4 linked regions of the Homo sapiens genome follow. The protein of the gene in region 3 purifies or fractionates together with the protein of the main gene of each other region. This does not show direct contact. Each region holds a gene or a part of one and is shown on either strand. Other genes may lie near its edges.

The links. Proteins that work in one complex are often made in the same cells at the same time.
Region 1: the proteins of PTH2R (region 3) and HACD2 purify together in Homo sapiens (affinity purification with mass spectrometry; one large-scale study listed by BioGRID and IntAct). This does not show direct contact.
Region 2: the proteins of PTH2R (region 3) and MZT2B purify together in Homo sapiens (co-immunoprecipitation; 2 studies listed by BioGRID and IntAct, with this or other methods). This does not show direct contact.
Region 4: the proteins of PTH2R (region 3) and LSR purify together in Homo sapiens (affinity purification with mass spectrometry; one large-scale study listed by BioGRID and IntAct). This does not show direct contact.

Annotation. Positions count from the first base shown.
Region 1 is NC_000003.12:123,529,554-123,533,053, forward strand, and holds part of HACD2 (very-long-chain (3R)-3-hydroxyacyl-CoA dehydratase 2), read right to left. Parts: intron 1-3,500. UniProt on the Homo sapiens protein: Catalyzes the third of the very long-chain fatty acids (VLCFA) elongation four-step cycle (condensation, reduction, dehydration, and reduction).
Region 2 is NC_000002.12:130,185,262-130,188,244, reverse strand, and holds part of MZT2B (mitotic-spindle organizing protein 2B), read right to left. Parts: intron 1-2,983. UniProt on the Homo sapiens protein: Required for the recruitment and the assembly of the gamma-tubulin ring complex (gTuRC) at the centrosome.
Region 3 is NC_000002.12:208,444,792-208,448,291, reverse strand, and holds part of PTH2R (parathyroid hormone 2 receptor isoform 1 precursor), read right to left. Parts: coding exon 3,405-3,500; intron 1-3,404. UniProt on the Homo sapiens protein: This is a specific receptor for parathyroid hormone. The activity of this receptor is mediated by G proteins which activate adenylyl cyclase. PTH2R may be responsible for PTH effects in a number of physiological systems.
Region 4 is NC_000019.10:35,255,502-35,259,001, reverse strand, and holds part of LSR (lipolysis-stimulated lipoprotein receptor isoform 2 precursor), read right to left. Parts: intron 58-3,500; coding exon 1-57. UniProt on the Homo sapiens protein: Probable role in the clearance of triglyceride-rich lipoprotein from blood. Binds chylomicrons, LDL and VLDL in presence of free fatty acids and allows their subsequent uptake in the cells.

The DNA.
Region 1 (3,500 bases), on a different chromosome or scaffold from region 3:
GTCTCTACTAAAAATAAAAAACATATTAGCTCGCCATGGTAGCGTACGCCTCTAGTACCAGTTCTAGGGAGGCTGAGGCAAGAGGATTGCTTGAGTTTGGGAGGTTGAGGCTGCAGTGAGCTGTGATCATGCCACTGCACTCCAGCCTGGGTGACAGAGTGAGGTCCTGTCTCAGAATAAATGAGTAAAAGTAAATAAATACATAAATAAATGTATAAATGAATTATAAAACCTGGTTATATAATTGTGTAATACAGCTAACAGAGCTAATTAGTAAGTCAAACATTTAGTGAATATATTTAGCCAGATCACACTTAGATGGGACAATATGCAGTTGTGGATTTCCTCTAGAAACCAATTTAAAAAAAAAAATATATTGAAGATGGAAAGCTCATATACTGCAAAACAAGGCTTATGTTTTAAGCCATTCTTGTAAAATAATGTTTAATATTTAGGAAAATGGCAGAATTGTACTCTTCCATATTTCTATTATAATAGACCTATTTTGAAAATCATATTTTGCTTATTAACATGTTAAGTTTCATTTTGCTGGGAGAGGGGGATTAATGAGGTTGAAGCAATAACTACCTAGGCACCTGTAAGGAAAGCACCCATATAGAGGAAGCCTTTGATTTCTTTGATTTCAAACAAACAAACAAACAAAAAGTAAAAAGAAAAGAACTGAGAATTAAAGGATTTCTTTTTTTAAAAAAAAGAGACCAGATTTCACTCTGTCACCCAGGCTGGAGTACATGACGCCATCATATCTCTCACTGCAGCCTCAAACTCCTGGGCTCAGGCCATCCTCTCGCCTCAGCGTCCCAAGTAGCTGGGACCACACGGTGTGCCAGGTAATTTTTTTTTTTTTTTTTTTGAGACGGAGTCTTGCTCTGTCGCCAGGCTAGAGTGCTGTGGGGCGATCTCAGCTCACTGCAACCTCCAACTCCCTGGTTCAAGGGGTTCTCCTGCCTCCGCCTCCCGAGTAGCTGGAGTTACAGGCATAAGCCACCATGCCCGGCTAATTTTTATATTTTTAGTAGAGATGGGGTTTCATTATGTTGGCCAGGATGGTCTCGATCTCCTGACCTTGTGATCCGCCTGCCTTGGCCTCCCAAAGTGCTGGGATTACAGGCGTGAGCCACTGCGCCCGGCCTGCCCAGGTAATTTTTTAAAGTTTTTGTAGAGACAACGTCTTGCTATGTTGCCCAGGCTGGTTTCGAACTCCTAAGCTCACACAATTCTCCTGCCTTGGCCTCCCAAAATGCTGAGATTACAGGCGTGAGCCCCCATGCCCAGCTAAAGTAACTTTTTGTTGTTGTTGTTGTTGTTTTTAGATGGAGTTTCACTCCTGTCGCCCAGGCTGGAGTGCAATGGCGCAATTTCGGCTCACTGCAACCCCTGCCTCCTGGGTTCAAGTGATTCTCCTACCTTAGCCTCCCGAGTGGCTGGGATTATAGGCACGCGCTACCATGCCCAGTTCATTTTTGTGGTTTTAGTAGAGACGGGGTTTCACCATGTTGGTCAGGATGGTCTCGATCTCTTAACCTCGTGATCTGCCCGCCTCAGCCTCCCAAAGTGCTGGGATTACAGGCGCTAAGAGTAACTTTAAACAAATGGAACTAGAAGGTCTAGGGGCAAAAACTGCAATTCAGCTGAACACAGGTTTATTAATTATTCCCTCTCCACTATAAATCACCCTTCTCTAGGGAATATAAATTTGTATTTGTCTCCCTTTCAAAAATGCCATACATAAATTAACAGTGTTTTTCTTTTCTTTTCTTTTTTTGAGACAGTCTTGTTCTATCGCCCAGGCTGGAATGCAGTGGCACAATCTTGGCTCACTGCAACCTCCGCCTCCCAGGTTCAAGTGATTCTTGTGCCTCAGCCTCCTGAGTATCTGGGATTACAGGTATGCACCACCATGCCTGGCTAATTTTTGTATTTTTGTTAGAGGCGGAGTTTCAGGTCATCTGAAACTGACCTCAGGTCATCCACCCGCTGCCTCGGTCTCCCAAAGTGCTGAGATTACAGGTGTGAGTGAGCCACCACACCTGGTCAACAGTGTTTTTCTTAAAAATGCTTTAGTATCCACACACACACACAACGATTTATTTAGTGTATTTCTCACCAGTCTTTTCCTCTAAGCATATTTTAAACCAGTTTAACTTCTACTGTTTATATTGTTTTTGCTTTTCTCATTTAACATTTTAAGAATTTTCCTTCTCTTCTTCAAAAGATTTTAGCTTAAATCATGATATTCCTTTGAGTTAATATGTTTGTTTATTCTCCTTCTGTGGGACATTTAAATTGCCTCGAATTTCTTGATACTATAAATGAAGTAATGAAGCATTACAAATAACACTCAAAATTCGAGGCTTAGACCTTTTTTTAAAAAAAGGATTATTTCCTTGGGACATTTTCCCAGAAGTAGAAGTACTAGGTCAAATGGCATGAATGTTTTTAAGGCTCTTGAAATGTATTGCCAAACTGCTTTCTAAGAAGTTTATTACCAATTTATACTCCCACCAGCAATATACAAAAGTGCCTGTCTTAGCACACCTTTGGCAGTAAATTTAAATCTTAATAAGTAGTGAACAAAAAGCTGATCAATACTTTCTAATTGAAGTAGATGTCAAGATGTTTCTGGCCTTGCCTGCAGGTGCTTCTACCGTTCTCTATCCAGTGAACTCGCCTACTTAGACACCTTAATTTTCCCCAAATCATGTCATTCAGACCAACTGTCACTTAGTTTCTCTGTAGCATAGACAACTACTTCAACCAGTCACCCAGCAAACAGCAGTTCAGGCCCTCACCTGACAGCACAATCTCGAAATGCCTGCTCTACTGGACCAGTCAAAAGGCCAAGAGCTCTATCCCTGAATTTAAGCTAAAGAACAGATGGCCACATAGATGGGCATTATCTCAGCTCTGAACAGAGCTGGCATCACCAAGTTGGGCTTATCATTATTATCAGGTGAATTTCATAAGAAACTAAGGCCAGGCACAGTGGCTTACGCCTGTAATCCCAGCACTTTGGGAGGCTGAGGTGGGCAGATCACCTGAGGTCCGGAGTTTGAGACCAACCTGGCCCCTGGCCAACATGGTGAAACCCCGTCTCTACTAAATACAAAAATTAGCCGGGCGTGGTGGCAGTCGCCTGTAATCCCAGCTACTCGGGAGGCTGAGGCAGGAGATCTCTTGAACCCGGGAGCAGAGTTTGCAGTGAGCCGAAAACGTGCCACTGTACTCCAGCCAGGGTGACAGAGTGAGACTCCGTCTCAAAAAAAAAAAAAAAAAAAAAAAAAAGACTGTCAAACAGTATTAATATTACCTTATTTGCCGTAGGAATGGTGTACAGTATAATGTCCACCCTATCACTCAAAGCCTCTCATACAGGTAGGAAATTTGTTTTAGAGCTCAATGTTAAGAAAGGTTTGCTCCTTTCCAATAATAAGAATTATATAACTCTGTCACCCTCTTTAACTTGGTAGCCAGAAACC
Region 2 (2,983 bases), about 78 Mb from region 3:
AGCTCCCCACAGCACGCAGCATGGCAGGCCGCAGACTTGGGCCTGACTCAGAGTCGGCTTCCCTTCAGCTTGCTGCCATCTGAGCTTCCTCTCCTCCCCTCAGCAATGACCCAGTCCCTTCTGGAAACAAGGATGAGAGGGAAGCAGAAAAGAGCAAATAATGCTTTTTTTTTTTTTTGAGTGGTGGGGGAGGGGGGTTTAGAGACTGAGTCTTGCTCTGTCACTTGGTCTAGAGCACAGTGATGCAATCACAGTTCATTGCTGCCCCAAACTCACGGCCTGGAGGGATCTTCCTGCCTCAGCCTCCGATGTAGCTGGGACTACAAGCATGGGGCCACACCTGGCTAATAATGCTTATCTTTAAATCTGACAGGGTTGACAAACCCTGGAAATGTGAAACCAACATAACTTTAAGCCATAACTGATACTAAGAAAATCCTGGAAATCTTCAGGAATTGTGCGCTCTCAGGGTTAGTGGGGAGCCCTGTTCAGGCCTCCTCACTTTATGAAGGATGAGAAGGCCCAGAATAGAATGGCCTGCAGTGCCTTGCAGTGGGGAAACCAGCTTTGCTTAGCCCTGCTCCCTCGGGAGGGGCTACTGAGTCAGACGGGCTAGACAGTGGGATTGAACCAAGTGTGGCTGCAGGTTGGGGTGTGAGGGCGGGGTGACTGATGCCCCTACGCCTGGTCCCTGGAGGGCCCTCCTAAACGCCAAAGATAGTCAATGACCATTGAATGTTGAAAACAGCCTGGCTCAGCAGGGGTCAGTGGCTCATGCCTGTAATTCCACTACTTTGGGAGGCCAAGGCGGGAGGATCCTTTGAGGCCAGAAGCTAGAGACCAGCTGGGACAACACAGTGAGACCTCCATCTCTACAAAAAATTAAAAAATTAGCCACGTGTGGTAGTGTGCACCTGTAGTCCCAGCTACTCAAGAGGAGGTGGGAGGATTGTCTGAGCCCACGAGGTTGAAGCTGCAGTGAGCTATGAGTGTGCCACTGCACTCCAGCCTGGGTGACAGAACAAGACTGTCTCAAAAATAAATAAATAAATAAAAAGTAAAAGAAAATGCAGAATTAGCTCAAATACTTTAATCTAAAATATCCAACGTATTATTTCAATACGTAATCAGTACATAAGTTATTCATAAGATGTTGCATTCACCTCTGTTCTTTTTCTTGTTTCTTTGTAGAAATGGGTGGGGTCTTGCTATTTTGCCCAGGCTGGTCTCAAACTCCGAGCTTCAAGTGATGATCCTGCCTCAGCCTCCCAAAGTGCTGGGATTACAGGTGTGAACCAATGCCCAGCCTCATTCACTTTGGGGTTTTTTGTTTATTTTTGAGACAGGGTCTCACTCTCTCACCCAGGCTGGAGTGCAGTGGTGCAGTCACAGCTCACTGCAACCTCAACCTCCCAGGCTCAAGCAATCCTCCAACCTCAGCCTCCCAAGTAGCTGGAACTACAGATGTGTGCCACCATGCCCTGCTAATTTTTGTGTTTTGTAGAGATTGGGTCTCCCTGTGTTGCCCTGGCTAGTCCTGAACTGCTGAGCTCAAGAGATCCAGTAGCTGTGGACTCCCAAGGTGTGGTGGGTTTTTTGCATTCCCTTTTGTACCGGTCATTTGGCATCTGCTGTGCATACCACACGCAGTGCAATGACCATGCCAGCCATGTGTGGCTCAAGGTTCCTGTATCAGGCAGCACAGCTCAGGTGAGATGGCTTCCACACTCCAAACGTCATCTTACATGCATGCTCTGGACAACTTTTAAAACGTATAGTTTCTCTAAACTTAAATAGAACGCTTGACTGAATTTATTTTTCCCTCAATGACTCCAGACTCTCACCAAGACAAGCATTGCCCCTCTGTGCTTCTGGGGTTTTCTATTTCCCCTTCCCTGTGGGTATGAGTGAATCTGGTGGTGGTTGTCCCCACAGGCTGTCTGGATGGCTGGGGGACAGGCATCCAGAGGACCCAGGGTGCCTGCTGCAGCTCAGAGGCAAGCTTGAGAGGGCCTGGCCCACAGCCTGGAGAACTCCACACCCGAGTCCTGTGGGAAACCTATGGCCTCCATGCCCCCCAGCCGGATCACTCCAACAACCCCCCTTATGTCCTCCACCCCAGATTCTGCCATTACCAGGGCAGCCGGAGCTCTGTGTGGTCAGATGCTGTAACATGTGGGCCTCAGAGAGCTCTCAGCATTCCATCTGTGGCCTCTGCTTCTCACTCAGCAGCACACTCCTGGTGTGGCCCCACATCTGCCCCATTCCCCTCCACCTCCTCCTCAGGTTCCACTCTATCTCCACAGGGCCTCGGTGCCCTCATGTCCTGGCTTTCTGCCACCCAGCCTACAGGACCTGGGCTATGCTTCCAGGACAGAGCCCTCAAGGAACAAATGACCCTGAGGGTCCCAGCACTCCAGGCCACTCCTGTCCTTGGGTAAATTCTCTCGGAGCCCCCATTCGCTCACACAGCACCCCCTAATCCTCCTGGCCCCTCTATGCCTGCATTTCCAGTGCCACAACCCTCACATACATCTTGACCGTGCCCCCCCACCTGCCTCCTCCCGCCCCCGGCCTACCAGCACCTGGACAGCGCTCTGCCTCACCCACGCCCTCCCACTGCCCCAGCTCACACGTGTGGGGCTCTGCCGACCCCCCTCCTGCTGTAACCCTTGTTACCCCCCTGTGTAACCCTTGCTGCTCTCTGGGCTCTGAAGCCTCCTCCCATCTCCATTGCTAGCGGTTTTTCTTTTTTTTTTTTTTTTGAGACAGGGTCTTGCTCTGTTGCCCAGGCTGGAGTCCAGTCACAAGCTCTTGGCTCACGGCAACATCCCCCTCAGGCTCAGGCGATCCTCCCACCTCAGCCTCCCAAGTAGCTGGGACTACAGATGGGCGCCACCACCATGCCCACCTGGCTAGTTTTTTTTTTTTTTTGAGACGGAGTCTCGCTCTGTCCCCCAGGCTGGAGTGCAGTGGTGTGATC
Region 3 (3,500 bases):
GATCACAACAAGAAAACAAACAAAATAACCTAAAGGGTCAGAGTGCATGCATCTTGTGTGGGAGACTTTAACACCTGTCTCTGTGTTTAAACACTTACTGCCAAGTGGATGATCAAAAAATGTTTGCTGGATTAAGATATTTTACAAAGGGAATAAAATGGGAGTGTGGGACTGTTTCCTGATTATTTTCAGGGAACATATTATGTGAAAATATTCTATGTAAGATGGTATTACTAGGATAGGTGGTTTTATATGATGATATGTACATACTGGTGTTTCATCTGACAGTTGAAAATTAAGGATGGCTACTAATATAGAAGCAAATTACCATATTTAGTAACAATAAAAAAAAGAGATACCTTTTACATACAGAATTAAAATAGAGGAAAATGTGTAGTTGAAATAAAATGGAACTAAGAATAAAGCACCTTATTTATGGGAAAACTGAGACAAGGATGGGGAAAATAATAATGTGCTTGGTTGAATGAAAAGAAACAGTTATCATTAGTATTCACCTTTATTCTCTATGCATCTTGTTTTATAATAATAAAATGTAAAAACAGTTATTTTAAATATTTGTCCTTAATTTAGTAAAGGTCAGATATGACACCTATTCTTCTTCAGATTGTCATTTCCTTTCCTTCCTATTATTTATTTATTTATTTATTTATTTATTTATTTATTTTTCTTTTTGTTTTTTTTTTGAGATGGAGTCTCGCTCTGTCACCCAGGCTAGAATGCAGTGGCGCGATCTCAGCTCACTGCAAGCTCCACCTCCTGGGTTCACGCCATTCTCCTGCTTCAGCCTCCTGAGTAGCTGGGACTACAGGCGCCTGCCAGCACGTCTGGCTAATTTTTTGTATTTTTAGTAGAGGCAGGGATTCACCGTGTTAGCCAGGATGGTCTCAATCTCCTGACCTCATGATCCGCCCGCCTCGGCCTCCCAAAGTCCTGGGATTACAGGCGTGAGCCACTGCGCCCAGCCTCCTTCCAATTTATTTTTAAGAATCATCATAATCAGATTGCACATGGTCGCTCACATCTGTAATCCCAGCACTTTGAGAGGCCGAGGCAGGAGGATTGCTTGAGGCCAGGGGTTCAAGACCAGCCTGGGCAACATAATAAGACCACATCTCTAACAAATAATAAGAAATAAAATAATAAAACATTTAAAAAGAAAAGGATCATCACAATCAATATAAGTGTAACTCCACACATTACTACAATGTGACTAACAGAGTTCTGAGTATTTATCTAGCTGAAAAGAGCTTAAAGTTATAAACATTTGGGTCCAAATGAGTAACAAAGGAATTTAAGCAAGTTCTCTGCTCTAATGAAGCCAGTAAATGGCATCATTGGAAGTAAGTATAAAATTGGACTCGCTCTCAGTTATTCTAGCAAAGTATCCTGCAAGGCATATATAATGTTTTTGATCATTTAGAAAATGAATTTAGAAAAATGAGTCAGATATATAAATAATGTTTTTAAATCAGTCTCTCAGTGTTGAGATAAGAGAAAGACAATCCATAAATCAAACAGATTTTGATATGTACTTCATTCAGTGATAGCTGTGTTTTAGGAGCAGAGAATCTTAAAAGAATACTACTATTATTTTCATTATATATGCCCTAGACTAGAGTATATTTTTAAAGAATGGAAATGCAAAGAGAAAGTCAGAAGACAGACTAGCTGTAGAACCATAATTCCATGAAGAATAGTTATTACTCTTTTGACTTGTGGCTAATTAAGTGAGCAAAATGTGGCATGTAAAATGCGTTCACAGACAGTTTCCATGAAAAGTCAACCGGTTTTCATGTGTGTTCTCAAACTATTTCACGAAATGAAGATTTCTATTGTAGTTGTCATTTCTATGCCTAAACTTTTGTGGGCAAATTAATAAAAGCTGTAAAGGAAGGTAAGAAACCATACTTGCATAGAAGCTCACTAGCACCTTAGCTTTTCTTCACATTCTCTTTTTCATAGAAAGATTTGTGTTTTCTGAGATTCGGTGGGACAAACTCCTAACTGTAAGGAGAGACAGACTGAGTGATAAAGCCCAAATAAAGAGTTAATAAGGAGGCTTGCACCAGGTAGCTATCAAGGCATAAATAAAGAGAAAAAAAGAATTTATTAAAAATGTAAGCAATGATGAAGAAATTTGAAAAATAAAATATAACCCAAATAAACAAATGTCTACATTCATTATTGAATTTTCTATCAACACCTTTTCCAACTCCTAATAATTATGTGGGTTCACAGATATAATTTTGATTTGAAGGAAGGCAAACTACCACAAATTGTCAAGAAAATTTCCAAAGGATCCTAAAAAAGCAAAATATTATCTTTTTTATTTTCAGTAACTGCTAGTCAAAGATAAGAAAGAGCCTTAAAACAGACGAGCTGTCTACAAAAATACAACTTTAATTGTGATGATTATTTCATAATAAATAAGTTTAACAGTAAATTGATTTTCTTTGTCTTCTTAAAGGTTATTAATTAGCTAGCAGAAAGTTCAGCATTCTTTACTTCACATTTCAGTTGTTAAGAAAAAAAGTTAAGGCAAAATAGGCAAAGGCATATTCTTATTTTGGAGAGGAAAAAAACCTTCAAATTTAGTCGTGAGCTACTTAGTGAATTTTTTTCCTATGCTGAGCACCTCCTAATTTAAATATTAAAATAGCAATTGAGATCTGCAACTGTTAATCTCCAACCTCTTCTCAATTTTCACCACATATGAGTTTTAATTTCCCTTAATTTTTAACAAGCAAACAATTTCTTTTCTCCATGTCATGTTGAGTCAGTGTCTAATCCAGTAATCCCCCTTGTACTGCTAAATCATTTTTGAAATGAGAACTGAATACTTTTTTAATTACTTATGCCAGAAGTAATTTGAATAATTTCCTTCTAAAACACATGGTAAGTCCACATAATTAGTTTGTAATTTGTATTTGTTAAATACAGTCAGGATGGTCCTACAAATTCATTTCTGGCATTCTCATCATATGACCTAGAAATACAAACCAAAAATATATCATTATAGCTTAGAAATTCAAAAATAAAAAATTTTAAGATGAAATTATTGATAAAGCAGAACACTGACATTTAGTTGTACATGTGTATGGCTTACAATGAGTTCTCTTATATTTCCTCCAAAGAATCCTCTCAAGAATCTGGCCTAAGAACACTATCCACAAATAACTTTAAAAGTTTGTCACCACTGGGAGAATTATAGACTTGATCTTAATTATTTTTGTCTAAGAATAGAACAATAAAAGGGAGATAAAAAATAAGAATGGGAGGGATTGTTTCAGGAAAATGGCTGTAGGGATGCTAATGATGGGCATGACAGAATGTCATCAAATGCATCATCCAGTTTGAAAGGAACAGAGATATAAATGTCTTACCCCAGCCTATCAAGATGAAGCCCCACAGGTATTTGGTGTCCGAAAAGAAAGCCACAAAGATGAGATTATGCAGGTAGAGACCTTCCACCAGGATCC
Region 4 (3,500 bases), on a different chromosome or scaffold from region 3:
AGCAGTAATACACACCACTGTCCCCCCACGCCGTCTGGTCAAAGGTCAGGTCAGCATCTGAGTCGGGATGAAAAGGCGTGAGGGCACCTTGGAGGCTGGGGCACCTAACCCCTGGAGGGCCAAAGACCCCTTCCCAGCACACCCAGGAGGGGGCAAGCAGTGGGCTGGGCAGGCTGCAGATGATCAAATGCATATGCAAAGATTCCTACCAAGGGCACACGGCCTTTTACACCCCGTTCTAAACACCTGGACTACTGCAAGAAGTCTGTGAGGCAGGACCATTATCACTTCTGTTTTGTGGATGACATTTCGGGTCTGGAAAAGCTGCACAGCTCTTCAGTATAGAGCAGTAATGGTGCCCTCGGAGCCTGAGGTTGTTTTTTTTTTTCTTTCTTTAGAGACAGGGTCTCACTCTGTGGCCCTGGCTGGAGTGCAGTGGTGTAATTATAGCCCACTGCAACTTCAACCTCCTGGACTCAAGCAATCCTCCCACCTGAGTAGTTAGGACTACAGGCACTCCACCATGCCCAGCTTTTTTTTTTTTTTGTTTGAATCGGAGTTTCACTCTTGTTGCCCAGGCTGGCATGCAATGGTGCGAACTAATCTCGGCTCACTACAATCTTCGCCTCCCAGATTCAAGCAATTCTCCTGCCTCAGCCTCCCATGTAGCTGGGATTATAGGCACCTGCCACCACACCTGGCTAATTTTTGCATTTTTAGTAGAGATGGAGTTTCGCCATGTTGACCAAGTTGGTTTTGAACTCCAGACCTCAGGTGATCCACCCCCACCTCAGCCTCCCAAAGTGCTGGGATTACAGGCGTGAACCACCACACCCAGCAGTCTGTGCTTCTCAACTTACAGCCATCTCTGAACCACCTCTCAGAGCCAAAGTCAGAACTCCCCTGATGTGAACTGCCACCCACAGGGCCTAGTGTAGACCCCAGGGATGGGTGTGGAGATAAACAGGCCAGATTCTAGGTACCAGGAGATGCCCAGGCACCCATAAGGAGTGGGTGTGTCTATGTGGGAGAGAGAGACTTACCCTCCCAGTGCCTTGGTTCCTCCCCCTCCCCTTCCATCCCCACATTCCAGGTCAGGCCCAGGGCTTGGGGACGCTCTTGTCTGAAGCAGCTGCAGGCAAGGAGCCTGTTAACTCTACCATCCATCAAAGTGTTTTGGCACATCCTGTTTCCTCTCTGCTTCTCAGGCACTAATTAAATACCTTCAGCCTTTCACCAGGGTGGGACCAGGGCACCTACCAGGCAACTCTGCCTTAAGCCACTGGGGACAGAAGTAGGCTACATTGGGCATCTCGGGCAGGAAATGCCCTCAGCTTCCCGGCCTCTTTCCTCCTAGCCTGACCTGCCTGCCACCTTCCCAAGGACGCGCTGCCCTCCTGCATGACAGCTCTGTGACGGCAGCAACCACGCGTGCTGCAGTCCACAGCACCTGGCACCCCCAGGAATGAAAGAACCCTTGCTTTCTTCATAAGGAAGGCCTCATGTCTACAGAAAAATCCTCCTTGCAACAGTGTCTGGCTACAGCATTCCAGACGCCTTCCCTAAGGTCCCATAGTCCCATGGTCCCCAAGGCCCTTGGCACGACGTGGTCTCTAGCTACCGTGCCAGCCTCACCCCTGCCATCGCCTTGGTTCTAGATTTGCACTGTCCCCCTGTGGGCTGGGCTTCTCCCACGGCTCCCCCACCCAACTGCTGAAGTCTTATCTCCCAGCTTAGGGGCCGACCATCCTTTGCCTGGTGAAAATGTGGGCTCCGTGAGGCAGAGCCCTGTCTGTCTCAGCCACTGCTGGGTCCCCAGTGCCTGACACAATACCTGGCAAGGAGCAGAAATGAACACCCTCTTGGCCGGACATGGTGGCTCACACCTGTAATCCTAACACTTTGGGAGGCTGAGGCAGGTGGATCACTTGAGGTCAGGAGTTCCAGACCAGCCCGGCCAACATGGTAAAACCCCATCTCTACCAAAAATGTAAAAAATTAGCTAGGCATGGTGGCACGCACCTGTAGTCCCAGCTACCCTGGAGGCTGAGGCAGGAGAATTGCTTGAACTCAGGAGGCAGAGATTGCAGTGAGCTGAGATTGCACCACTGCACTCTAGCCTGGGCAGTAGAGTGAGACTCCATCTCAAAAAAAAAAGAAAAAAAAGGAAACGAACCCCCTCTCCTCATGCTAAAGTCCCTTAGCTTTTGTCATCTGTCTCATCATTCTGGGCACATGGCTGGATTCAAAGACACATTTCTTTCTTTCTTTCATTCATTCATTCATTCATTCATTCATTCATCCTTCAACAATAATTACTGAGTACCACCTATGTTCTAGGCAGTATTTGAGACACCTGGGATACCACAGCAACAGTTCTCAAACTGCAGCCTCTAGACCCTGGGGTTCCCCAAGACGTTTTCAGGAGATCCTGAGGTCAAAGTTATTTTCCCAACAATACTAACTGTGGAGTTTTCCAGAGGCTACGTGACATACAATAGATATCACAACAGACTGAAGCAGCTCTGAGAAGCCAGGCTCTTCTATCCAGCCAGGCTTCGGAGACTTGCAAAAAAATAAAACCATGCCACCTTCTCATTCACAATGTTTTGTCTGATTTCAGAAAATGATTATTTTTTTCATAAAAGGTATTTTATTTATGTTAATCTATAATGACTTTATTGTCATTTAAACTATTTTGTAAACTTTTCTCATTCTGCTGCCTATGAAAACAAACTCTTTGAGCTCTTAATTTTTTTTTTTTTTTTGAGATGGAGTCTCGCTCTGTTGCCCAGGCTGGAGTGCAGTGGCACGATCTTGGCTCACTGCAGCCTCTGCCTCCTGGGTTCAAGCGATTCTCCTGCCTCAGCCTCTTGAGTAGCTGGGATTATAGGCGCCTGCCAACATAACTGGCTAATTTTTGTATTTTTAGTAGAGACAGGTTTTTCACTGTGTTGGCCAGGCAGGTCTGGAACTCCTGACCTCAAGTGATCTGCCCGCCTGGGCCTCCCAAAGTGCTGGGATTCCAGGCATGAGCCACCTCGCTAGGCCTGAGCTCTTAATTAACCTCAAAATCAAGAATATAAAAGAGGCCTAAGCCCGGAACCTTTGAGTTATAAATCCTTGCCCTTGCCCTTCTAGAGTTCAGATTCTAACTAGGAAAGAAAGACAAATATAAAATGTTAACTATGTCACATATCAGACAAAGATAAGCTGTATGGAGAAAACGAATCAGGGACAGCAGAGAGTGCCAGGCGTGGAGTGGGGGCTGTGCCATTTTAAACAAGGAGGCCAGGGAAGGCTTCCGGATATGGTGACCTTCAGAGCAGATGTGAAGGGGTTGAGGACACGACTTACCCTAATGATCAGGCATCTAAGCCACTGTTTTTTTGTTGTTGGTGTTGTTTTTTAATTTTGAGATGGGATCTTGCTTTGTTGTCCAGGTTGATCTTGAACTCCAGGGCTCAAGTGATCCACCTGCCTCAGCCTCCCAAAGTGCT